4 linked regions of the Homo sapiens genome follow. Each later gene encodes a partner of the first gene's protein in a complex. Each region holds a gene or a part of one and is shown on either strand. Other genes may lie near its edges.

Region 1 (7,031 bases):
GATGCCTTATGGTTTGGGAAAACCGTAGTTTTCCCAAAAAACCATAATGTCATAAACTACATAAAATGTAACATGAATATTTAGCGTATTTACATAACCGTGGTATTTGCCGTGATCTTTTTCTTTCCAACAAATACAATTTTTGCCACTACTTTACCTTACCTATTGCCTACGTATCAAATTCATACTTCTCCCAACCTTTGCCATCATCTGCAATACATGTTTCGAACATGCTGTGTTCCATCAGCTCAGTTACTGTTGCCTGTATATTTTATCCTGCATTTCCCCTATTTAATGATTTCATATCTTTATCCTTTAAAACTGTTCAAAAGTCACCATTTCAGAAAGCTTACATTGTTCAGCCCACAAATCCTTACTACTCTTTATTTGTATAACCCCTCACTCAGCATTATGGCTTTGTTTTCTACTATGTTAACAGTTTTCTGTAGTTTGCTTTCTGTGTATACGAAGACATTTTCATTATTATTTGTCCTATATTTATTATTTGTTGAGAATAAGGATTAGACAATCCCCTTTAAAAAAAAATTCTCTTCTAGAATTTTCATAGAAAATTAAGAAAATGGGAGGAGCCAGCAGTAAATACACTAATTGCAGTTGTAAGACTTCAGAAGTTGGAGAACTTCTGTTCTCTCCTTTTAATTGAAACAGAATCATTTGTGTGATTATGTTTAGATTGTAGGACAAATTTATGCTTTCATGGAGGCCAACTTCTCTAGACTTTACACTATAAGATGGCCAAACATAGAGTGTTGTGTCTCTTATGAATATGAATGCCCTCATTATAGCAATAAACTTCTTTTTAAAATTTCCCCCAAAACTGCAAATTTGTTGAACATGGTTTCTGGTGTATAATTAATTCATGTCTTTGTTGCAGCAAGATAAAGCCGATCTTATCCGACCGAAACGGAAATATGAAAAGAAGCCCAAAGTCTTACCATCGTCTGCCGCTGCTACTCCCCAACAGACGAGTCCTGCTGCACTGCCAGTCTTCAATGCTAAAGATCTGAATCAGTATGACTTTCCCAGCTCAGACGAAGAACCTCTCTCCCAGGTACAAATACAATTCTCTATGAACATTGAGGAGGGATGTAGGAAGTCACGTATCTGACCTACTTTCTTTATTTCATTTAAAGGTTTTGTCTGGCTCTTCGGAAGCTGAGGAAGACAATGATCCTGATGGTCCTTTTGCTTTCCGTAGGAAAGCAGGCTGTCAGTACTATGCTGTAAGTTTCAGAGTGTCTTTGTAAATAACAAACTATTTACCTTTAACTGACAAAATTAAATAATTTGGATTTTTTTTTTTAAGCCTCACTTAGACCAAACTGGCAACTGGCCTTGGACTAGTCCTAAAGATGGAGGATTAGGGGATGTGCGATATAGATACTGCTTAACTACTCTCACCGTACCCCAAAGGTGTATTGGATTTGCACGAAGACGGGTTGGGCGCGGTGGAAGGTAAGGTATTTCTGTATTCCTAGCAGAAGGATATTTTAGGCATTAGGGTGATTGAATCTAACTTTTAAAGTCAGGTAATCCCTCTGAACAACTCATTAGTTCCTATTTGCTATTCTTAACTGATCTGTTGACTAAAATATTTTTGTTGCTGTGCTGCCTGGTTCTTACACATCCATAGTTTTTGACATAACTCTATTGGGTCCCTAGTGGACCTGCTTTTCTCCCCAAGGTGGAAAACCTCAGATAAATTATCAAGGGGTAGAATTGTGAGAAAGGGCAACAGATGAAGACAAGTGTAAATCCTGATTGCACACAGTGTATTAAGTTAAAGAAACTGCAAAAAAGTTGTTTCACACTAGCTAGTATAATGGGTTTAACCTGACAGTGAAAAGGATCCATGCATAACCTGATCTTGACATCCCAGTTTGTTAGGATCTAATTGTTCTTCCTTTGTTTAAACCTTGTAGAATTCCTTCCTTCATACTCTAAATGCCTTTATGCGAGTTGCTTGTATGGGGACAGGAAACAAATAGCAAAACACATAAACTCAAGGAATGGAGAGACGTTAATGTATAATGTGCGGGGAAAATTAAAAGGGAAAGCAAATAATAGTATCAAGGTGCTTTTTCAGGAAGAAACCCAAGCGTATATTTATGATAAACTAATGGCTTATACATATATTTTTTTCATCTTCAACTCTTAATTGCAGAGGGTTTTTTTTTATTATTTAAACATTGGTTAAGAATTATCTAGGCACTAAAATACATTTTATTTAGTCCGTTTTTTTCCATCACTGCTGACATCAGGAGCAGTGAAAATTCTCTACGTTAGCTATATTTTATTCTATTACTAACATTAATCAATGTTATTATTTTGACTTGGAGCCATTTATAATGTTTATATAAATAACATAAGAGGCCAGGCATGGTGGCTCACACCTGTAATCCCAGCACTTTGGGAGGCCAAGGTGGGTGGATCACTTGAGGTCAAGAGTTTGAGACCAGCCTGGCCAACATGGGGAAACACTGTCTCCACTAAAAACACAAAAATTAGCTGGGCATGGTGGCAGGCGCCTGTAATCTCAGCTACTCGGGAGGCTGAGGCAGGAGAATCACTTGAACCCTGGGGCGGAGGTTGCAGTGAGCCAAGATCGCACCATTGCACTCCAGTCTGGGTGACAGAGTAAAACTCCATCTCTCTCAATCAATCAGTCAATCAATCAATAACATAAGAATATATCCTCTAGAGTAGTGGATCTCAAATATTTTGTCTATAAGAAATGTTAATGGTATACTATGTTTTTTGTTGCTTTTCTTCTCTCTTCTCCCTTTCCCCCCAAAAGGAATGAAGTTTTTGCTTAAATATAGAATAAATGTGTTCGCAACATTTTATAAAGCATTCATTTTGGTGCTTTGTAATGGAAGTGAAAATCTTTAGTTGAAAAACAATTTGTTAAAAGAACTTTTATTAGAAATTGAGGTTGTAGCCTATAAAAACCAAACACTAAAATAATCAACTTTAAAGCTTTTAAATATTCAGTATGAGTTGGCCTTTTGGCAGTTGGGGGTAAAAAGAAAAAGCTTTAATATATAATCTTTGAATAGCTATTTTAAATAACTGTTTCTTGTCTGATTTTTTAATAGGGTCTTACTGGACAGAGCTCATTCAGACTATGACAGTGTGTTTCACCATCTGGATTTGGAAATGCTTTCCTCACCACAACATTCTCCAGTCAATCAGTTTGCCAATACCTCAGAAACAAATACCTCGGACAAATCTTTCTCTAAAGACCTCAGTCAGATACTAGTCAATATCAAATCATGTAGATGGCGGCATTTTAGGCCTCGGACACCATCCCTACATGACAGTGACAATGATGAACTCTCCTGTAGAAAATTATATAGGAGTATAAACCGAACAGGAACAGCACAACCTGGGACCCAGACATGCAGTACCTCTACGCAAAGTAAAAGTAGCAGTGGTTCAGCACACTTTGGTATGTTGACTGTTAATGATGTACGTTTCTATAGAAATGTCAGGTCCAACCATTTCCCATTTGTTCGACTATGTGGTCTGTTACATTTATGGCTTAAAGTCCTTTTCTCTTAAACAGTTAAAAAAAAAATCTTGGTCTAAGTATTTATTTGAATCCTGTTGCTATAGGAGTTTGTATGTGTGTGTCTTCATTTAAACATACCTGCATACAAAGATGGTTTATTTCTATTTAATATGTGACATTTGTTTCCTGGATATAGTCCGTGAACCACAAGATTTATCATATTTTTCAATAATATGAGAAGAAAATGGGCCGTAAATTGTTAACCATTTTATGTTCAGATATTTCTCTAGTTTTTACCTAGTTTGCTTTAACATAGAGACCAGCAAGTGAATATATATGCATAACCTTATATGTTGACACAATAATTCAGAATAATTTGTTAAAGATAAACTAATTTTTCAGAGAAGAACATTTAAAGGGTTAATATTTTTGAAACGTTTTCAGATAATATCTATTTGATTATTGTGGCTTCTATTTGAAATGTGTCTAAAATAAATGCTGTTTATTTAAAATATTCCTATAATCTTAGCTGTCTGTTTTAAAGCATAAGTTTGTGTTATTTGAAGCCTATATATTGTAGAAATTCACCATTGAATTATGTTACTACTGATTTTTGTAAAGGTAATCTGAGGACTATGAAGATATTTATCATTCCCCTAATTCACCCTGTAGGGTTATAGTTAAGTTGCTTCATAAATATGAACATTTGCTCTGATTCTTAAAGACCTCCAGAAAATGTTCCGTAAACTAATTTACTTGGTGGTTAAAAAAAAGTACAGTTGACCCCTGAACAACATGAGGGTTAGGGGCACCCCCCAATTGCAGTCCAAAATTCATGTATAACTTTTGACTCCCCAAAAACTTGACTAATAGTCTGCTCCTGACCAGAATTACCAATAACATAAACAGTCCATTAGTCCATTAACATAAACAGTCCAAACATACATGTTTTGTATGTTATATGTATTCTGTACTTCATTCTTAAAATAAGCTAGGAAAAAGAACATGTTATTAAGAAATTTATAGAGCCAGGCATGGTGGCTCATGCCTGTAATCCCAGCACTTTGGGAGGCTAAAGTGGGCAGATTGCTTGAGCCCAGGAGTTCAGGACCAGCCTGGGCAACATGGTGAAACCTCATCTCTACAAAAAATGCAGAAATTCACTGGGTGTGGTGGTGAGCGCCTGTAGTCTCAGCTACTCAGGAGACTGAGGTGGTAGGAGCCCAGAAGGTCAAGGCTGCAGTGAGCCAAGATCATGCCACTGCATTCCAGGCTTCACAGCAAAGCAAAACCCTGTTTCAAAAAAAAAAGAAATTCATAAAGGAGAGAAAATACATTTACTAATCATTAAGTGTAAGTGGATCATCATAAAGGTCTTTATCCTTGTCATCTTCACATTGAGGGGGAGGAGGGGTTGGTCTTGTCATCTGAGAGGTGACAGAGGCAGAAGATAATTTACAAATAAGTAGACCCAGGCAGTTCAAACCCATGTTATTCAAGGGTCAGCTGTACTTCTATGAAATGGAAGTCTTTCAGCTCATGAGAAAAATAATCACAATTCAGAAATCAGCTGGAAGATAAAGCTATTTTAGGGACTAACAGCTTATTTATAATCCCATTAATGTTACTGTCTTTATCACCAAAAGCCAGTTTCTCTCTACTTTTATAGTCTTAAGAATCAAAATAAAGAACTTTTCAATAAAGACTTACTTATAGTGTTAGTATAGAGGTTTTAACAGTATAAACCTGTCATAGGTTACCCTGATAATTAAGCTTTCTAAGCTGTAAAAATTCTTTAAGACTTCTCAGAAAATAGGCATGTTCCATCAATCTCCATCTTCTCCACCCCTTAAATAGAGAAGTTGAAGTGTATAACTATCCTAAATATTTAAGGATTTTATAATGCTCTTTTTTTATGAAAAATGTTTTGCTATACTGCTTTAGGCATATTAATAACAGTTGTAAAAATTGTTTGATTTGTGTTTGCCCAAAGAACATTAAAAGATGAGCATTACCAAAAGCTTAGCTGAAAAGAAATCATTAGTAACCTTGTAATTTTTCTTCTTTATCATTTCTTTCCTCCATATATGCGATACAACTATTTATTTATTTATTTAAGACAGGATCTTTCTCTGTCACCCAGACTGGAGTATAGTGGCACAGTCATGGCTCACTGCAGCCTCAACTTCCCAGGCTCAGTGATCCCCCAACCTCAGCCTCCTGGGTAGCTAGGACTGCAGGCGTATGCCACCATGACTGGCTAATTTTTTGTAAGAGATAGGGTCTATGTTGCCCAGGCTAGTCTTGAACTCCTGGCCTCAAGTGATCCTCCTGCCTTGGCCTCCCAAAGTGCTAGGGTTACAGGGGTGAGCCACTGCACCCAGCCTCAATACTACTTTTTAAAAATGAGTTTATCTATTTTTTTTCCTGTTGTCTTAATTATTTTCAATTTCTCCTTAAATTTTGCTAGATCTTCTAATACTTAGAGGATAGATACCTACAGACTACTGTAGGGTAACACTGTTCATTTATATTTGTGAATATTCCAGAGACCTAAAGCTTTTCTCTGCATACTTTATAAAGTATATTACAATGCAGCCATATCATAAGTGCATTTCACTTAATCCAACTCCAGGCCCCTGAAGAAAAAAAAAACAAAATTTAGGCCAAGTGTGGTGGCTCATGCCTGTAATCCCAGTACTTTGGGAGGCCGAGGCGGGCAGATCACCTGAGGTCAGGAGTTCCACACTAGCCTGGCTAATATGGCGAAACCTGGTCTCTACTAAAAAATACAAAAATTAGCTGGGCATGATGGCAGGCGCCTGTAATCCCAGCTACTCAGGAAGCTGAGGCAGGGAGAATGGCTTGAACCTGGGAGTCAGAGGTTGCAGTGAGCCGAGATTGTGCCATTGCATTCCAGCCTGGGCGACAGAGTGAGACTCCATCTCAAAAAAAAAAAAGAGAAAATGTAGCAGCTCAAATGTTATACAGAATTCTAAATACAATTTACTGAAAGAATATATTCTCCAGAGTGAGCCTGGAGTAGGGGAAGTTGAATGTGTTGGTCCTCTTACGGCGTGAGTGCCCGCATTGCCACTTTATTCATAGGTTAAGCATCTTACCTCATTCAGTAGTAATTGTGATTTTAAAGATAATTTTTAATTTTCATACAGCATGGCCCCCACATACAAACCAGACTACTTCCTCTGGCACTTAACCAAAGAAACTCTGATGTAGTCTGATGCCAGCAGAAAAACTGGCAGTGTTGGGCTAATTAAAACAGAAGAGTCAGGCCAGGCACAGTGGGTCATGCCTGTAATCCCAGCACTTTGGGAGGCCGAGGCAGGCAGATTGCCTGAGATCACCTCAGATCAGGAGTTCAAGACCAGCCTGGCCAACATGGCAAAACACGTTTCTATTAAAAATACAAAAATTAGCCAGACGTGGTGGTGGGTGCCTGTAATTCCTGCTACTCGGGAGGCTGAGGCAGGAAAAC
Region 2 (5,534 bases), on another chromosome or scaffold:
GATTCATGAGGTGGCTTTCCTCTGGCAGTTTGTGAGCAGGACCTTTCCTTTGGAGCAGTCAGGGCCTCTCCTGGGCCTTTCCTGGCACTTCTGCTGCTCTCCTGTGGCTGGAGGCCCAGCCTGGGCCTGCCAGCATCTCTTACCGCATGCAGGAGTGCTGTGGGGATGCATCAGGAGAGTCACAGATCTCCCTTTGTAACCAGCATTGGCAAATTACTGAAGCAGTTATGGTTCATAGTAGCAATTGTATATGTTACCTAGGAGATGGTGTCAATGGCCGGGGGCCTCATCGCCACGTAAGGGTGTCTTGCCAGGTGACTTGCAAGGGTGACTGCCAGGTTGAAGCCAAGGCATTCACTGAACGGAGGCAGAAGCAGAAACAGTCCCAGGCAATTCTTGGAAAACTGGCCCATTCTTACTGCGGGACATAGCACCTTACTGTTGGGTCCAAAACCCCATGTGTCCTGCCAAAAAAGGCAGCCCAGCACAGATGTGTTCAGGGCCAGAGACACCATTTGCCTACTGAATGACTTGAGCAATTTGGTGCATCTCACCGAGCCTTCACCTTCTCTGTTAAATGGAACATCTCCTCCCTCCTTTGCAAGATTGTCATTAGGATTTGTGAGGTATTGGCAATAACGGGCCCTCCCATCCTTCCCATTGCTGTTGTTATTACTGTATTCATAGCTTTGTGTGCTTCATAGGTACCCTCTAGGGTCCTCTACGTACAACATACAACAGCTTCGCAATAGCCAGTGTTGGAGGCTCCAAGAACGAGGGTCCTGTGGCTATGTGGAGAGTAAGCAGCAGAGCCAGGACTGCCACTCAGAGCTAGTTCACCCTTGCTGCCGCCATTCGAACCCAGAGCTCCTGGCCCAAACAGTCTGGAATGTTCTGTACTGTGCTTCTAGGACAGTGACTTGCCAGGCCAACTCTGGGCTGGGGCTGTCTTGGCTCTGTCAGGAGGGCCTCTCCTCAGGCTTTCTCTCAGGACTCGTGGCTTTGTTCCCGCTGGCCCAGGCGATAACCTCAGCATTTTTACTGGAGCCTGGGGCTAGGTTTTTAAACAAACTCAATGTAACTTGTGTACTCTGCAATCCAAGCCGACACCCTCATAAACTATCCCTGCAGGTTATTAAATGATTAAAGATCTCATTTATGAACTGTCCATTTTCGAGCAGCCTGAGACAGACGCTTTCACGATTGCTCTGACCTGCTGCTCTCTCTAGTGAGAGAGAGAGAGCAGAGTGTCCCTGACATTCTGGAAGCTGAGCCACAGATTCAGTGCATCTCACTGAAGGCGAGGCACTTAGCTTAAGCTGTCTCCTATGACCAGGCTCCAGGATTCAATATTTACATCTCCCTGGAGTTTCAGAAGGTCATCTGGGGACATTTTTCTTGGCAAGACCTGGTGGTTTCCTCAGTCCCAGCTGTGAGTGAGAAGCCGTTTTTACCTTGAAGCTGTGTTCAGGGGGGAGTTCTGTTGTGAGTCCCTCCCAGCTCCTTTTCTTGGTTGTCCTTGTACCATCCAGTAACTTCAGAGGGCCCCTTTTTGCCCAGCTGCATTTAGCTTTGGATTTCAGACAGTGAAGCCCCTCCTGCATAAGCTAAGATTGTTTCAGTGGAGCTCACACCCTGGCAGTTCACCCATGAGCCCAGCAGATACGTTTCATGTGGCCTATGCAGTGTTTGTGAAATGTTTGAACAAGTTGCTGACATCTAGACATCAGGACATTTCTTTCTTTCTTTCTTTTTTTGAGATGGAGTTTCTCTCTTGTTGCCCAGGCTGGAGTGCAACGGCCCAATCTCAGCTCACTGCAACCTCCGCCTCCCGGGTTCAAGCAATTCTCCTGCCTCAGCCTCCTGAGTAGCTGGGATTACAGGCATGTGCCACCACACCCACCTAATTTTTGTCTTTTTAGTAGAGATGGGGTTTCGCCATGTTGGTCAGGCTGGTCTTAAACTCCAGACCTCAGGTGATCCACCTGCCTCCGCCTCCCAAAGTGCTGGGATTACAGGCGTGAGCCATTGTGTCCTGCCAAAATCAGGACGTTTCGTACAAGGATCTGAGTTCTGAGCCTGTCTTGAGAAAAGGGAAGACTGCAGACAACACCTTGCAGCAGTGGTGGCCGCGGGTGGAGGGGCTGCCTCCCCAGGGTGTTTGCTGGCCAAGCATTTCACCCTCACCTGGCTCATCGCAGCCGCTCTGTCCTGCTGGGGCTTTCCAAGGCCTTTCCCATCTGTGGGCAGCCAATGTGCTGTCCCCCAAGCCCAACCGCGATCATCAGAGACTGGGCTCCCCCTGCAGCTCCTGCCCGCAGGGTCCCAGCCTGGAGAGCTGACAGGCGAGGCTTGATGTGGCCACCTCAGTAAACCTCTGGCTCTCCTCCCTCCTGGAAGGCTGAAGCTGGGACTCAGTCTTTCCCAGCTCCTGTGCCTCTACACTGGGTGTGCTTTTATGGCTTTAATTTCAACAAGGGCTTCTTGATATCTTGTTTACGAAGCTGCCAAAGTGAAAAATTCCTGTATTATATGCGGCTCGAAGTCCTGCAGTTATCTCAGCTCCACAACACACAACATCATTATCCTGGCTGCCCCTTATCACTCAGTGCTGGTACGCCTGCAGGATCCTGGTCCACCGTGTTACAGCATCCCCGCCGCCAGCCTGCCTCCCCTCCAACTCTACCAAGATCTTCAAACTGCAACAAGCGTCAGCCTCTTCTTGATAGATTAGATATCTCCCGGTGATGTTATGAGGCCTGGTAAATCTTTAAAAGTAACTGTTTTGATTTATTTAACCATCATATTTATCAAGCAAATAAAAAATGTCCCTTCTTGCCTGAGTGCTTGTAGGCAGTAGTGCCCATGCTGGAGAGGAAGGTTAGAGCCCTTGCAGGAGCCCCGGGTAGGTTAGAAGAGGCCCCAGTTCTCTGCCTGGGGACAGGGGACGGGAGGACATGGAGGCAAGAGTGAGCCACTTGGGAAGCTGCATACCTCCTTGGGCACCAGCCACACTTGAGTCAGTTGAATACAGCACACTGGCCGTGATGCTATTCATGCATACTGCAGGGCCGCACATGCCTCCTGGAGGGTGCCGGGCCGGCAGTGCTGGGCAGGCGTTGGCTCCCTGCCCACCAACCCAGGTCTCAGTTTCTCTTATGCTGCACAGTGAGAAATCTGAGCAACATTGTCTTTAAAGCACTTTAGAAATGGGGCACTTGAGGTCAGTCACCGTTGATCATGTTTTTTATCCTTTAAAAGATCATTAAAATCCGTGCCCAGACGGAAGGAATCAACATCAGTGAGGAGGCACTGAACCACCTGGGGGAGATTGGCACCAAGACCACACTGAGGTGAGCTGGTACCCTGGGCCCGCCGGGGCCTCCCCAGCACAGCCAGGGCCCTCGCTGGGGTCATTCTGGACAATAAAGGCAGGTCCCTTCCTAGGGCATGGGACTCTATCCATCCGCTCTTCCTGGCGCGATGGGTGCCAGGGCACTTGAGTTTCAAATGCAGAGGATCTATCTGATGGTTTTTAACAAGCTAGAGTAAGGGTGAAGTCCCCATGTCCTGCAGCAGATGCTCCCCTCTGGTGGAGAGTGCTTTGACCCTGGGCCTTCTTGTGGCAGAGAAGATGCACAGAACTAGAGAGCAGGGACCATGTGGTAGCTCATTAGCCAGGGCCCTGGCTCCTGTTCTCCCGGTGGTGTTATGAGGCCTGGTAAATCTTTAACTTTTTTGATTTATTTAACCATCAAGCAAATAAAAAATGTCTGGGTGGTGGATATGGAGAGCCAGGGAGGAGCGCAGACATAGACAGTTCTCCTAATTGTTCTCCAGCGGCTCAAACACAGGACCGGCAGAGCATGTCCCTTCACAGTGGCCTGACTCATTGTAAAATCATTGCTTCACAGTCCTCAGCCCTTCCCTACATCCCTTGAGTCAGTTCTTGCTCCTGAGGTTGAAGGCAGAAATGCAAGCTGTGAGGTTTGGATGAAGGGGTACTTTTTAAAACGGCAGAGTCTTCATGCCTTTGGATGGGCATGTACTTCCAGCTGGCTATGTTTTCATTTCCCTGCCATGTTAAATATCCCTATCTGTCGGACACCTGTATACATATAAGTTTGCAGTCCTTTTCCAGTAGCAGTGACATTACTTCCTACTGGAGGATTTGTAGACTGTACTAAAGATTTGGGGAATAGCACTTATGTCTTCTTGGTGGCTCCTGGACCCTCTCTGATGGGATAATGACTGCAGCTCTCTGAGAAGTGACAACTTTGTCTCCCCTTTTCTGTGTTCGTAGCAGCTGGCACAAGCCCAGCACTGGGCTCTGCTCCTGGTGCCAGTGCTGCCTACTGATGTGGGGGGAAGGTGCTTTCTTCGGTGGCCCCAGTTTCACTCCAGCCCTGGCCCCTGTCCACTCTAGGTACTCAGTGCAGCTGCTGACCCCGGCCAACTTGCTTGCTAAAATCAACGGGAAGGACAGCATTGAGAAAGAGCATGTCGAAGAGATCAGTGAACTTTTCTATGATGCCAAGTCCTCCGCCAAAATCCTGGCTGACCAGCAGGATAAGTACATGAAGTGAGATGGCTGAGGTTTTCAGCAGTAAGAGACTCCCCAGGTGTGCCTGGCCTGGGTCCAGCCTGTGGGCGCTTGCCCCTGGGCTTGGGGCTGCCGTCCCCACTCAGGCGTGGTCTGCAGCGCTGTCAGTTCAGTGTGGAAAGCATTTCTTTTTAAGTTATCGTAACTGTTCCTGTGGTTGCTTTGAAAGAACCCTTCCTTACCTGGTGTGTTTTCTATAAATCTTCATAGGTTATTTTGATTCTCTCTCTCTCTCTCTCTAAGTTTTTTAAAAATAAACTTTTCAGAACAGTTTTAGATGTACAGAGTCATTGTGAACATACAATAGGGAGTTCCCATGTATCTTGTACCCAGTTTCCCTTCTTGTTAACGTGTTACATCAGATAGCACATTTGTCACCGTGAATGACCAATACTGATGCATTATTCTACTGCGTTCACATTTTCTCAGTTTTACCTAATGTCCTTTTTCTGTCCCAGGATCCCATCCAGGATAACCCATTACAACTAGTTGTCATGTCTCCTTAGATGCCTCTTGGCTGTGACATCTTCTTAGATTTTCCTTGTTCTTGATGACCCTGACAGTTTTGAGGAGGACTGATCAGGTATCTGTAGAACATCCCTCAGTTGGGGTTTGTCTGATGCTTTTCTCATGAGTAGACTGGGATTGTGGGTTATGGAGAGGAAGACTAGAGGTGAAATGTGGTTCTGATCACATCGTATCATGTGTGGTTCTCATCACATGCTAGCAACATGACTCATCGTTGATGGTGAGCTTGACCCTTTGGCTGAGGTCATGTTTGTCGGGTCTTCTCACTGTAAAGTTACTCTCTGCTGCCTTTCCATACTGAATTCTTTGGAAGGAAGTCACTATATGCAGCCCACACTTAAGTGGCAGGGGTTATGCTCACCTCTAGAGAACTGAGTATTTACCAAAATTATTTGGGATTCTG
Region 3 (7,031 bases), on another chromosome or scaffold:
ACACTGTAGAGTTTATGTAATGGTAGAGAAAAGAGTGGCGAGAAGTAGTGTTTTTTTGTTTTGTTTTGTTTTTTTCTTTTTGAGACAGTCTTGCTCTGTCGCCCAGGCTGGAGTCCAGTGGCGCGATCTCGGGTCACTGCAGCCTCCGCCTCCTGGGTTCAAGCGATTCACCTGCCTCAGCCTCCTGAGTAGCTGGGATTATAGGCACGCGCCACCACGCCCAGCTAATTTTTGTATTTTTAGTAGAGACGGGGTTTCACCATGTTGGCCAGGATGGTCTCGATCTCCTGACCTCGTGATCCGCCTACTTCGCCGTCGCAAAGTTCTGGGATTACAGGTGCGAGCCACCGCGCCCGGCCGAGAAATAGGGTTTTTAATGATTCTTGTAAACTTGTTAAAAAAAAAACAACTCGTAAACTTATAAAAAAGTTTTTTTTTATTTGATAATGGCGTGCAATATATGTTGTATAAGCAATTCTTAAGGCATAGTGATTGCTTTGCACTGGACTTGGTTTTCCATTGGAAATTCTTTTTTGTTTTGTTTTGTTTAGATTTTGAGACGGAGCATTTGCTGTCCTGGGTCATACTCCTCAGCTAGCTGTATATTTTTTCAACAAAATACTAGGGCCTCGTAGCTAGAATGGAGGTCACAGGGCCTCGGTTTCAGTGCACTTTTTTTTCCGGCAGTAGCAGCCAAGGGGAGAAAAATGGTAGGCCATTTTCAGAGTGCCTTTAAAATGTACCAGGAGAGTGAAATTAGGAAACACAGATCTGATCTGATCTTGTTCGCTGTTTATTAGCAGTATAGTTTACCCATTTTAGTTCTCGTTCCTGGGCCGTTGGAGAAGTCTTTGATCTTCCCGTTTTCCAGTCTCCGTCTTTAATTCAGAAATGCTATTCGTAGGTCCAGCAGCCTCTAGCAGTGATTCTTTATAGAGTGACCACTTAAAAGAATTATAGAACTGATTTAAAAATAAAGTTAATAGGTCGTGCTCTGGGAGAGTCTAATAATATGGGTCTTTGGTGGGGCTTGAAAATACATAGTTTTAAAAAATATTTTAAATTTTAGTGGTTTTTTTTTGAGGCGGAGTCTTGCTCTCCCATCCGGGCTGGAGTGCAGTGGTGTGATCTCTGCTCACTGCGACCTCCAGCTCCTGGGTTCAAGCGATTCTCATGTCTCAGCCTCCCGAGTAGCTGGTAGCTGGGACTGAAGGTGCACATCACCACGCCCGGCTGATTTTTTTTTTTTTTTTTTTTTTTTTTTGAGAGGGCGGCTCCTTCTCACCCAGGCTGGAGTGCGGTGACAAGATCTTAGCTCACTGCAACCTCCACCTCCCGGGTTCAAGCGATTCTCGTGCCTCAGCCTCCCGAATAGCTGGGATTACAGGCACACACCACCATGCCTGGCTGATTTTTGTATTTTTAGAAGAGACAGGGTTTCGCCTGTTGGCCAGGCTGGTCTCAAACTCCTGACCTCAGGTGATCCAGCCACCTCGGCCTCCCTAAGTGATGGGATTACAGGCGTGAGCCACCTCGCCCCGCCTGCTCTTTTAATTTTAGAGCTAAAAAAGAGCTGACATTCTTGGATATTTCAGTTGTCCATGGGTCTTTTGAAACCAAGTGGACTGAAAATAATGTGTGCAAAATCTTTCAAGCTACACTCAAATGTAATCTGAGGTACTGCCTAGAATTGCTTCCAAGACTTCCAGGTCCTGACATTTTCTTTAGTCTTGAAGTAGGCTCAACGTAGACTGTTACGTTCCAAAGGTTAGGCTTTATTGTCTCATTTCTTTGTTCATTGAAGCAACTTAGCACCTAGAACATCATTCCACATTTGAAGAATGAACATAGTGAGACCCCTTAATCCAGCCAATCTCTGATGCATATTGATATTTTAATTTGTACGATATTTCACTGAGTAAAAGGGTTGGAAGCAGAGATACAAGTGGAGAGTAAAGGTCCTCAACTTAGAAAAACAGATGAGGAAAGCATTTAAAAAACTGTATTTTCAGATATATAGTTAAAACCAACCAACCAACCAACCTCGACAGCTTTGCAGGAGAGTCCGCTTATGTGCTTAACAGGTGATAGATGATTTGATTATTTAAGTAGATTGACCTGCTAATGAATTGTTTTTGTTTTTACCATCGGATACCAACGTGTTTTTGTCGTAGGGTATAGTTGAAGTTTGAGCCAAAGTGGTGCTCTGTATACCCGTCCTCATTTTTCCTAATTTGGCTAGGAATACCTTAATAAAAGTGTGATGACTCTCTAAGATGTTAATCTTTTTATATATGAGAAGAAATTACAATTCAGTACTTTTTCTCCCTTTACAGGTGAGCGAGTGCTGTGCTTTCATGGGCCTCTTCTTTATGAAGCAAAGGTATGAAACTTGTTTTCTTTTGAGAAGTTGGCCAAAACTACTGGTTAGATCTGGCCATTTAATATACAAGTACAGTATTTTGTTGTTGCCTCAGTAAGAGAGTTGCCTTTTTTAGGTTCGTAGTTAATAAATTTCTTCATCTTTCTGAGATTCTTATTGTTTTGCTTAGTGGCTCAAATGAATTAAAACATTGCTACTCTCTTCCACTTTTCTTACTCATCTGGAAGTAGCATTTGAGGGGAATGTTAGAAGGGGAAGATGGGCTGTGGGAACAAAGAGCATTTTGTGGTTAATGACTTGGTGAGAAAACATTGCTGAAGTTACTTTTAAAAGTAATATATGCTGAGTAAGCATTGAGCTAATTATATTAGGTTAAAGGTAAAAGCCAATATTAAAAATAAGTACATTTAACTGTTGATTGTTGATTTGTCTGGCAAAGTTTGTATTCTGGGAGGCCCCCTTTGTATCAGGGTGTGCTCAAGTTATAAAAACTGATTTTACATTTAGCTGAAGGTAAGCAGGAGAATGCATTCCAAAGTAAAAAAAAGTTTCAGTATTTTGTTTCTGATAACTTTTTTAGTACAAATATTTAAGACTTGACTATACCTTAAACAGTCGTAGCTCCAAAAATGAGCCCGTAAAATACAAAACAGTATAATGTTTAATTTATGTAATTTCTGCATAAATTCTTGGTGAGTAGTTTTATGCTATATGTGTCTGAAAATAGCCTTAAAGTGTCAGACATTTCTGACTAAATATTAGCCATTTTCACTACTTTTTTTTTTCCTGTGTTCTAAATACACAGAAGTGTATTTTTAAAGTTCTAAAGAGCCAAACGCGGTGGCACATGCATGTAGTTTCAGCTACTCAGAAGGCTGAGGCTAGAGGATTGCTTGAGCCCAGGAGTTCAAGGCCAGTTTGGGCAACCAAGCGAGACTCTCTCTCTCTTTATTTTTATGCTCCCCGCCCCGCCCCGCCCCCCAAGACAGTATTGCTCTGTCGCCCAGGCTGGAGTGCAGTGGTGCGATCTTGGCTCACTGTGACGTCCCCCTCCCGGGTTGAAGCAATTCTCCTGCCTCAGCCTCCCGAGTAGCTGGGATTACAGGCACCAGCCACCACACCTGGCTAATTTTTGTAGTTTTAGTAGAGACGGGGTTTCACCATGTTGACCAGGCTGGTCTTGAACTCCTGACCTCGTGATCCACCTGCCTCGGCCTCCCAAAGTGTTGGGATTAGAGGTGTGAGCCATTGCCCCTTGGGAGACTGTCTCTTAAAAAAGAAATCCTAAAATGACTGAATTTGGATGTATGGAGATGGTCAGGAATTTCTAAGTATATGTATACGTACATACATCTTAATGATATAATGTTTGTAAGTGCTAAATTACGACTCATGGCCAGGGGCTGTGACGTACAAGCCTGTAATCCCAGGGCTTTGGGGAGCCAAAGCAGGAGGATCACTTGAGGTCAGGAGTTTGAGATCAGTCTGGGCAAGATAGCAAGACTGTCTCTACCAAAAAAAAAAAAAAAAATTATGTCCTGTTAATCGTTTTTATCCCTGAATGTTGTTATTGTTGTATCAACGTTTGGCAAACTCTACTAAACTGGCTGATTTTTCTCCTGGCACCTGACACTCTGGTGAACAATTTTCGAATTGAAGCTATTGAAACAAATTAAACTGTTGTGGTTATTTTGGTTTTCTCTTAAAGACTTTTAAATCCAAAACCAGATAGTCATCACTTGTCATAGTTAATGACTTGCCTCTAGTAATTCCTTTTGTCTGGCTGCTTTTAAGAAAAGTGAAATATTTTTAATTCATTGCTTTACAAGTTGTTTAAACTAACTTTTCAGAAACAGGTCCATTTACTGCCTTTCATAAGCTAATGAAGTTTTTTTATAATATAGTTTAAAGACTTTGCTTTAGAGGAATTTGCTTTTGAAATAAATATAGCTCCTGGCTGATTAGACTGAGAAGACACAAGCATAGCTTTCATTAGCTGTCCTTGGATAGCTTTTGTAATCCATTGATTAAAGATTTAAGGTGACCTTTTATGCTTGTGGTTCTCAGCTTTGTTGGACCTTTTGTGACTAATCTTCAGTTTTGTAACTTGAGTATTCTACAAGCTTAGTGTTCTTAGTCATTCTGTTTAGGCCACCATAAAGCTTGTGTAGAGTGTCTTTGAAGGATGATTTGAAAAGGTAGTGTCTTTAAAAAATTTCTAAGTGAATTATTATTTTTTTTTTGAATTTCAGTGTGTAAAGGTTGCCATAAAGGACAAACAAGTGAAATACTTCATACATTACAGTGGTTGGAATAAAAAGTGAGTATTAGATCTTACAATTCTATTTGTAATTAACAAGATAGCTTGTGTCACTGACTGGCTTAGCAAGCATATGCTTTTCAATTCTGCAGTTTTAATGTAATATAGTACATATTGAAGCAAAGGTGAATCATTTGTAGTATGACAAAACTATTAGAAATTAGGGTACTGAGCCATTTTAATTTAAATATACTTGGATCTTGGGAATATTTGTTATGTTCTAGTGTAATATCTATTAGTCATATAGTCAATCAATTATTCTGGTTGAATGTGGCAATCACATTTTTCTGTTTTTTTTTTTTTCCTGGTTTTGGTACATTTTTAGGATGGCCTGAATTATTTGGCCTTACCACAAACATGTTGATTATATATGTTATTTCAAGCAGCTGTGCTAAAAAAAACTAGTTGGGTTTTCTGTCTAGAAAAGGGGAAAGGATAAAGGTTGCTTGATTGGGAAATAAAGACAGAATTTACCAGTCCATATTCTGAACTTTGGAAACATTATTTAGTGTTGACCGAAAATGACTTCATGTGACTCACTTTTTAGCATGGTTTAACACAGAAACATTCAATTATAGAGTCTTAATTTCTCACCCCTAAGAGTTAAGCCTTTTTTTTTTTTTTTTTTTGAGAGATGGAGTTTTGCTTTCGTTGCCCAGGCTGGAGTGTGCAATGGTGTGAGCTCGGCTCACTGCAACCTCCGCCTCAGGGGTTCAGGTGATTCTCCTGCCTCAGCCTCCTGAGTAGCTGGGATTACAGGCACCTGTCACCATGCCCAGCTAATTTTTTGTATTTTTAGTAGAGACGGAGTTTCACCACATTGGCCAGGCTGTCTTGAACTCTTGACCTCAGGTGATCCACCCGCCTCGGCCTCCCAAAGTGCTGGGATTACAGGTGTGAGCCACTGCCCGGCCTTTTTGTGTGTGTGTGTGTGTATGTAAAGTACCGATGTTATTGATCTTGTTCTAGGAATGGACAGTGGGTATAGATTGAACACATTCTAGAATGTCCATCCAGTGGAGCTGTTTTTCAGTGATGGGACTTTTCTCCTTGGGCCTCACAAATAACCCTGTCTAAAAATTTACCCAAGTCTCCTATTTGGTGATTGTAATGAAAAGACTTGTAATTTTTACTATGGGAGGTTTTACATTTTATTAATGATGCCTTGTCCTTCAAAGATAGCACTGCCATTGCTATTTAGTATTGTTCTTGTGGAATTGTCCTCTAGTAACTTAAGGCTTTGTGTCACCTGACTCAGGCTCTTTTACCTGGTTTACTATGGGATCAGTGCCATCTGATTTGATGAGTATTCTGTTACTATGGAAGGAGTTTATTTTTCCTGTGAAGTTCACTGGCCCTGTGACTTTGGTCTTGTTTCATCTAGTACTCTATCCAGGTGACCAACCCAGTTAATTTTATTTCTTTGTTAGGAAGTTGTTTTCACGTATCAGATGTTTTCAGCTGAGAATTTATCAGACCTTTTACTTCCATTAATATAAATGTGGAAAGGTAGAAATCTGAAATGCATAGAAGTGCATCCTGACAACTTGTGGGTATTTTTTTCCCAGTTAATGATAATTAAAGTATTTCTAATCAGTGAGGTGTGGTGGTGTGCACCTGTAGCTACTTGGAAGGCTGAGGCAGGAGGATTACTTGAGCCCAGGAGTTTGGGGCTGCAGTGAGCTATGATGTGCCACTGCACTCTAGCCTGAGTGACAGAGCAAGATCTGGACTCCTTTAAAAAGAAACAACAACATGTATTTCTAATAATGATAGGTAATATTTAATAATGATAGGTAACTCCAACCTCATGGACTTGTATTTTAAATATTGAGAAGTTGGGAAAATAATGGAGAAAACTGTCTTGGTAGAAGTAAACTGTGCTTTTAGTACTAAATGGATTCTAATATCTAGGAAACAGGAAAATAGTGACTCCTAGTGTATCTCATAGCTTTTTATTACTAAACAATGCCTTGCTAAAACTGCATTTCAATCTTTATTAGACTTATATTTTGTGTGTTGATATTCTGACAATATCCAGATAAAGTTGAGAGTGTTAGGAGAATTTCATTTCTCTACAGGAAAGATAACATCTTAATTTTATGCATACTATGAGTGGGAAAGACCATATAGGATATCAAAAAAAAACACAAAGCAAATTTATGGTTTAGGCTTAATCTCCTCCATCTCCTGCATTTTAAAGGAATTGTTTTAGAGCCAGTATGGTGGTGCCTATAGTTTTAGCTTCTTAGGGAGGCTGAGGTTGAGCCCAGGAGTTTGAGGCCAGCCTGGGCAACATAGGTAGACACCCCTCTTATAATTAAGCAA
Region 4 (7,031 bases), on another chromosome or scaffold:
TCCAACTCTTGGCCTCAAGTGATCCTCCCAGTTTAGCATCCTGAGTAGTTGGGAATACAGACCCTTGCCACCATGCTTGACTAATTTTTTGTGTTTTTTGTCACTTGTTGCCCAGGCTGGTCTTGAACTCCTGGGCTCAAGTGATCCTCCCACCTTAGCCTCCTAAAGTGCTAGGATTATAGGCGTGAGCCATCACTCCCAGCCTAGAACTATCATCATTTTACCTTTCTCGGTATCAGCCCCTCACCCCCTTTCTTTTGAATCATCCATTATGAATTTAACTCTCTTGCCACATTTATAAACAATTCAGTACTTTGCTGATTGTCATGCTTCCTAGCATTTTTTTTGTTTGTTTTTTAAATCTAATTTTTGAAGTAATATGTGGCCACCATAAAAACAAAAACACTATATAGAAAGCAATAGCAACAAAGAAATGGGTTAAAAACTTAAGTTTAAGGCCGGGCGCAGTGGCTCACGCCTGTAATCCCAGCACTTTGGGAGGCCGAGGTGGGCGGATCACAAGGTCAGGAGATTGAGACCATCCTGGCTAACACGGTGAAACCCCGTCTCTACTAAAAATACAAAAATCAGGTGTGGCGGCGTGCGCCTGTAGTCCCAGCTACTCAGGAGGCTGAGGCAGGAGAATGGTGTGAACCCAGGAGGCGGGGCTTGCAGTGATTTGAGATCGTGCCACTGCACTCCAGCCTGGGCAACAGAGCAAGACGCCATCTCAAAAAAAAAAAAAAAAAACTTGAGTTTATTTTTTGTCACACATACAGGAAGTCTAGGCAGTCCACAGCTCTCATAGCAACTTCACAGTGACATTAGAGGCTCAGGATATTCTCTTTCTGTTCCACCTTCCTCAGTGCATAGTTTATCTTCTGGTTATCTTATGGTTCACGGTGGCTGCTTGACCTTCAGCTATCACATCCTTGTTCCATGCAACAAGAAGGAAGGGGGTTGGTAAGAAAAGTCACATCTCTTCCCTTTTAACAACTTTTTTGTGATATAATTGATGTGCAGTAAACTGCACCTTTTTTTTTTTTTTGAGATGGAGTCTCTGTTGCGCAGGCTGGAGTGCAGTGGTGCAATCTTGGCTCACTGGAACCTCTGCTTCCCAGGTTCAAGTGATTCTCCCACCTCAGCCTCCCGTGTAGCTGGGACTACAGGCCTTTGCCACCATGCCTGGCTAATTTTTGTATTTTTTGGTAGAGATAGGGTTTTACCATGTTGGCCAGGCTGGTCTTGAACTCCTGACCTCAGATGATCCACCTGCCTCGGCCTCCCAAAGTGCCGGGATTACAGGCATGAGCTACGACACCCGGCCAGTGCACACATTTAGAGCATAAGACATGGTATTTTTGAAATATATATACATTTGTGAAACTATCCACAATTAAGGTAATTATTATAGTATCCATTAACAGATGAATGGGTAAAGAAAAAATATATATGTATACACACACACACACACACACACACAATGGAATACTGTTGAGCCATAAAAAAGAATTAAATCCTCCATTTGTGATTCCATGGTTGAGCCTGGAGGATAGTATGTAAAGTGAAATAAGCCAGACACATAAAGAAATACCATATGATCTCAGTTATATGTGGAATCTAGGAAAAATTATAGACCTCACAGAACTAGAGAATAGAATGGGGCTGGGTGCAATGGCTCACATCTATAATCCCAGAACTTTGGGAGGCCAAGGCAGGAGGTTGCTTGAGATCATGAATTGGAGACCAGTCTGGGCAATATGACAAAACTATAAAAAAACACAAAAATACTAGCCAGGTCTGGTGGTGTGTGCCTATAGTTCCAGCTACTCGGGAGGCTGAGGTGTGAGGATGGCTTGAGCCAGGGAGGCAACATAAGAGAAACTGTTCCCTACAAAAAAGAAAATTAGCCAGGCATGATGGTGCATCTGTGATTTCAGCTACTTGGGTGGGGCTGCAGTGGGAGGTTGCCTAAGCCTCAGAGGTGGAAGCAACAGCAAGCCATGATTGTGCCACTGCACTGAAGTCTGGGTGACAAAGTGAGATACTGTCTAAACAAAAACAATGTGTGTTTTGTATGTGTGTGTGTGTGTGTGTATACACATCACATATATTTGTATATGTATATAAATTGAGCTCATTTTTAAACAAAACAGGTAAACTGGTTTGAAATAGAATCTAATCTGTATATTTCCTCACATTTTTATTAGATAAATAGTGTTAAGAATCTTTTTTTTTTTTTGAGATGGAGTCTCACTGTGTCACCCAGGTTGGAATGCAGTGGCACGATCTCGGCTCACTGCAACCTCCACCTCCTGGATTTAAGTGATTGTCCTGGCTCAGCCTCCCGAGTAGCTGGGATTAAAGGTGCACGCCACCATGCCTGGCTAATTTTTGTATTTTTAGTAGAGGTGGGGTTTCACCACATTGGCCAGGCTGGTCTCAAACTCCTCATCTCAAGCAGTCTGCCCTCCTCGACCTCCCGAAGTGTTGGGATTACAGGCGTGAGTCACCACGCCCAGCCATAGAAAAATAGTATAAGAATACTTGAGTAAAAGTTTTAAATTTTATTATTTTATCAGCAGATACTAAGTCATAAGATTCAAAATTATATGCAGTGTCTTCCTCCCGTTACTATCCCCCGTCTACTAGTGTTAGCAGTTTCTTGTGTCTCTCCAGCAAAATTTTATGTGAGCAAATATTTTCTTTTTCCCCTTCATCCCCCTCATTTTCTAACACAAATGATTATATACTATATATGCTGTTCTTTTTTTTTTGAATGGCGGAGGGGGTGGTCTTACTCTGTCACCCAGGCTGGAGTGCAGTGGCGCGATTTGGGCTCACTGCAGCCTCTTGACTTCCTGGGCTCAAGGGATCCTCCTACCTCAGCTGCCCAAGTAGCTGGGACCACAGGCCGCAGGTACGCACCACCATACCTTGTCGATTTTTTTTTTTTTTTTTTTTTTTTTTTTTTGTAGGGATGGGATCTCCTCGGGTGGCTTGAACTCCTGGGCTTGAGCTGTCCTCCCACCTCTGCCTCCCAGAGTGCTGGGATTACAGGCACGGTCCATTGCACACCTCGCATTCATTGGCTTTTTTTTTTTTTTTTTTTTTTTTTGAGATGGAGTCTCACTCTGTCCCCAGGCTGGAGTGCGGTGGTGAGATCTCGGCCCACTGTGACCTCCGCCTCCTGTGTTCAAGAGATTCTCCTGCCTCAGCCTCCCGAGTAGCTGGGACTACAGGTGCATGCCACCATGCCCAACTAATTTTTGTATTTTTAGTAGAGACGGGGTTTCACCATGTTGGCCAGGTTGGTATTGATCTCCTGACCTTGTGATCCACCCGTCTTGGCCTCCCAAAGTGCTGGGATTACAGGCGTGAGCCACCGCGCCTGGCCATTCGCATCTTTTTTATTCCAAAGTTTGAACTCCAAGCCTTGCACTCTCAGCATACCTCTCCTATTGTTTTCTGCTTGGTGTGTAATAAAGCTTTCCTCATTTTGTAGGGTATCAGTTAGCAGAGCAATCAAGCCCTTTGCAGAACCTGGCCGCCCTCCAGACTGGTTCTCTCAAAAAGTAAGTTCCCAAGCAAGGGCTCTTTTAGAGCAGTCTTTGGGTTGTAAAGTAGGTTCTCTACCAGGCCCTGACTTTTAGTTACAAAGCTTTTATACCATGATGTGGGAAAATAGTTGAGAATACCTTTTTCTTTTTCCTACTGTTTGCTAATCCATCCATGTATGATCATATTAGACCTTTCTTATTGGTGTTGCATAACAGTTAAGAGCCCAAGCTTGGGAATTAGATCTGGGTTCATTATTACTCCATCTAAAAACTTTGGGCCATGATCCTCTGTTTTTTCATTTGTAAAATAGAGATAAAAGAGTTGCTTCAGGATTGTTGTGAAGCTAATTGAAGTAATACATGTAAAACATTTAACACAGTGCCTTGCATGTAGTAACTACTTGGTAGATATTAGCTATAAATATTGGCAGTTAGGTTGCCTTTCCGCAAATGCACAAACTCCAGTCCATAAGACTGTCTTTTTCTGTGTCTTGTTTTGATTATTTTGAACTGATTTGATTATAAAGTTACTTGCCCTCCTAGTAAACCACTCCCGTCTTACATATAGTTCTCTTCTCTAAATCTTACTCTAATCTCTTGAAACTTTGAAAGGTCATTTCTTTCCAGCCTTGCTCATCACATTTTCACTTTTTTTTTTTTTTTTAATAGCATTGTGCTTCCCAGTACTCGGAGCTTTTAGAGACCACTGAGACACCAAAGTGAGTACAAAGCCAGGTACTTCAGCCATATTTCTTTAGTGGAGAGTATTTACTGAGGAATTCTGGTTTATACTTAGTTATGATACTGGATGATTAAAAAATAGCAGAAGTTATCTATGATTAAGTGGTAAAAGCAAGTAGGAGAGGGGATAAATGTTATGTTATTTGAATATGAATTTTTTTTTTTCAATTTTCCACAGACGGAAACGAGGTGAAAAGGGAGAAGTGGTGGAAACTGTTGAAGATGTTATTGTTCGGAAATTGACTGCTGAGCGAGTTGAAGAACTAAAGAAAGTGATAAAGGAAACCCAGGAGAGATATAGGTACTTATCAGAGAGAATGCCAAAAAATTGAGAAAGACATAAGGGACTGTCTTCTGGTACTGGTCAGAACTTTTAAAATAGCAGATTAAAAAACCCAGTCTACCTACCTCTCTTTCTTCCTATAGACGGCTAAAGAGAGATGCAGAACTAATTCAAGCTGGACACATGGACAGCAGACTGGATGAGCTTTGCAATGACATTGCAACGTGGGTTATATTATATTGTTCTTCTGTGCTTCTTTCTTTTTACCCTCTTTTCCCCTCAAGTAATCTGGCTTATTTCCTCCAATTGCCGTCCCTTTAGACTTGAGACAGATTCTGGAAGGGGAAAGCTGCAAAGTGGTTTGGTGGCTGGGAGGGGGGAGTGAGTCCTAGAAGGTAATATAATGGGACATTTCAGTATGAAAACATAACTTAGTTCTAACTTAAGAGTGGCTATAGTTTGCCTGGGTGAAGAACTGGGAGTTAGGCAGTATACCCCAATTCACTGTTTTGCTGGTTAGAATTCCTGTTTAGGCCTTTCTTCCAGAAAGTGCTGGCCTGGCAAAAAAAATTACTTTGTAAGGGTTCTGTGAACTCTGGGGAGGAGCCAGAGCTGTCTAGCATCTAACCCTTAATTCCCTGTTTAGGAAAAAGAAATTGGAAGAAGAGGAGGCTGAAGTAAAGAGGAAGGCTACAGATGCTGCATACCAGGGTAAGCTGAACCTAGTATGCCTCTTTAGCAATTGATTGCACAGTACTGCATGCTAATGACAGTTGGACTGTTTTGTAACATAGAATACATTGATTTAAATTTACTTGCAGTTTTCTCTTCTACCAGAATAAAAACATCCCTTAATGTCTTAAGAAGAAACTCCTAGAACATGCGTTGTGCTCAGATCTCACTAGACCTTAAATTAACTTCAGGACACAAAGGCTTGATGAGATATTGAACATAATGTTTTAGAAGTCAAGGGCCTGTGAAAAGATTGAGAATAGCTCAGTCATTAGATGAGGAGAAATTTAAGCATTTACAACTCTAGGAATACATGCTGTGCGCCAGTGAGGTCTTTCCCTGTTTTTGTTTTTTGTTTTTCCCCCAGGCGGAGTTTTGCTCTTGCTGCACAGGCTGGAGTGCAGTGGCGCGATCTTGGGTCACTGCAACCTCCGCCTCGCGGGTTCAAGTGATTCTCCTGCCTCAGCCTCCCGAGTAGCTGGCATTACAGGCGGCTGCCACCACACCTAGCTAATTTTTGTATTTTTAGTAGAGATGGGGTTTCGCAGGCTGGTCTCAAACTCCTGACCTCAGGTGATCCACCTGCCTTGGCCTCCCAAAGTGCTGGGATTACAGCCGTGAGCCACTGCACCTGGCCTTCCTGTTCTTAAAAGCAGAATATTAGTAAGTTGCTAAAGAGAATATTAAAGGATGTTTAAACTACTTTCCCACTCCAAGGACCTTTGGGATAATTAAGTAGTTTGAGATTGTTAAAGGAGTTTCTTAGTGTGAGAATTGCCCTTAGGAAAAATTAGGCTAAAAAGTTATCCATCTCTAGAAGTGTTAAAGCTTTCTAATCCAAACTTATTATGCTGCTTTAGTAATGCAACATACCTATTTGTCCTTTATTGTATAATAGCAGACTAGTGTCAAGTTTCATTTATTTAATCTTGAAGATTTGGACATTGTTCTCTTTTATGTTCTAGCTCGTCAAGCAGTAAAAACACCCCCCCGGAGGTTACCCACTGTGATGGTTCGCTCTCCTATAGATTCTGCCTCCCCAGGAGGTGATTATCCACTTGGGGACTTGACTCCAACCACTATGGAAGAGGCTACCTCTGGGGTGAGTATATTTCCATCTGTGGGAATTGATCAGTGAAGGGGCAATAAGCCGGCAGAGCTGAGCGATGAGGAAACCACTTTTGGCCTAGAGGCAACTTCCTCTCTTGATCTGAATGCTAAAGACTTAATTTACCATGTTCTGTGCTCTGAGATAAGAACGGACCTAAAAGCATTGAGGCTTTTGACCTTTTTGAGAGATAGGTAAAAAACTATTTTAAGAAATTGTTTCATACTAGTCTTATGAAATTCCTGCTGAAATAAGGGACAAAATCCTTGTAAATGTAATATTGGTAGTGGGTAAGGAGTTCATAAAAGGCAGGTTGGGTGGGATGGTTGAGTCACTGTGGGTTTGAGTGGATGAAAGAGAAGATTGTGGGGAAGAAAAGTATGGCTAAGAGCAGGAGGGATAGAGGGTTTCTGGGCAATTCCACTCAGGACTAATAAAATAATAGTTAGACACACTAACCCATACAGATTAGTAGGGAACCTTCCATAGTTTGAGAAGTCAGATAAAGGTTCTCTGTTGTCTCTTAGGTAACCCCCGGGACTTTGCCGAGTACCCCAGTCACCTCGTTTCCTGGGATTCCTGACACCCTTCCTCCAGGCTCTGCACC

Evidence for each region.
Region 2: EPC1 (region 1) and RUVBL1 share a complex: the UniProt entries of both Homo sapiens proteins name them as parts of the nuA4-related complex.
Region 3: EPC1 (region 1) and MORF4L1 share a complex: the UniProt entries of both Homo sapiens proteins name them as parts of the nuA4 histone acetyltransferase complex.
Region 4: EPC1 (region 1) and BRD8 share a complex: the UniProt entries of both Homo sapiens proteins name them as parts of the nuA4-related complex.

The regions. Positions count from the first base shown.
Region 1 is NC_000010.11:32,281,139-32,288,169, reverse strand, and holds part of EPC1 (enhancer of polycomb homolog 1), read left to right. Parts: intron 1-895; coding exon 896-1,072; intron 1,073-1,154; coding exon 1,155-1,244; intron 1,245-1,327; coding exon 1,328-1,476; intron 1,477-3,119; coding exon 3,120-3,472; coding exon of another isoform or gene 3,473-3,585; exon of another isoform or gene 3,586-4,049; intron 4,050-7,031. UniProt on the Homo sapiens protein: Component of the NuA4 histone acetyltransferase (HAT) complex, a multiprotein complex involved in transcriptional activation of select genes principally by acetylation of nucleosomal histones H4 and H2A.
Region 2 is NC_000003.12:128,080,302-128,085,835, reverse strand, and holds the end of RUVBL1 (ruvB-like 1), read left to right. Parts: intron 1-3,261; coding exon 3,262-3,353; intron 3,354-4,426; coding exon 4,427-4,586; 3' UTR 4,587-5,026; downstream 5,027-5,534. UniProt on the Homo sapiens protein: Possesses single-stranded DNA-stimulated ATPase and ATP-dependent DNA helicase (3' to 5') activity; hexamerization is thought to be critical for ATP hydrolysis and adjacent subunits in the ring-like structure contribute to the ATPase activity.
Region 3 is NC_000015.10:78,875,877-78,882,907, forward strand, and holds part of MORF4L1 (mortality factor 4-like protein 1), read left to right. Parts: intron 1-2,336; coding exon 2,337-2,383; intron 2,384-4,635; coding exon 4,636-4,703; intron 4,704-7,031. UniProt on the Homo sapiens protein: Component of the NuA4 histone acetyltransferase (HAT) complex which is involved in transcriptional activation of select genes principally by acetylation of nucleosomal histones H4 and H2A.
Region 4 is NC_000005.10:138,168,609-138,175,639, reverse strand, and holds part of BRD8 (bromodomain-containing protein 8), read left to right. Parts: intron 1-3,505; coding exon 3,506-3,575; intron 3,576-4,229; coding exon 4,230-4,279; intron 4,280-4,479; coding exon 4,480-4,602; intron 4,603-4,727; coding exon 4,728-4,808; intron 4,809-5,230; coding exon 5,231-5,295; intron 5,296-6,281; coding exon 6,282-6,418; intron 6,419-6,951; coding exon of another isoform or gene 6,952-7,031. UniProt on the Homo sapiens protein: May act as a coactivator during transcriptional activation by hormone-activated nuclear receptors (NR). Isoform 2 stimulates transcriptional activation by AR/DHTR, ESR1/NR3A1, RXRA/NR2B1 and THRB/ERBA2.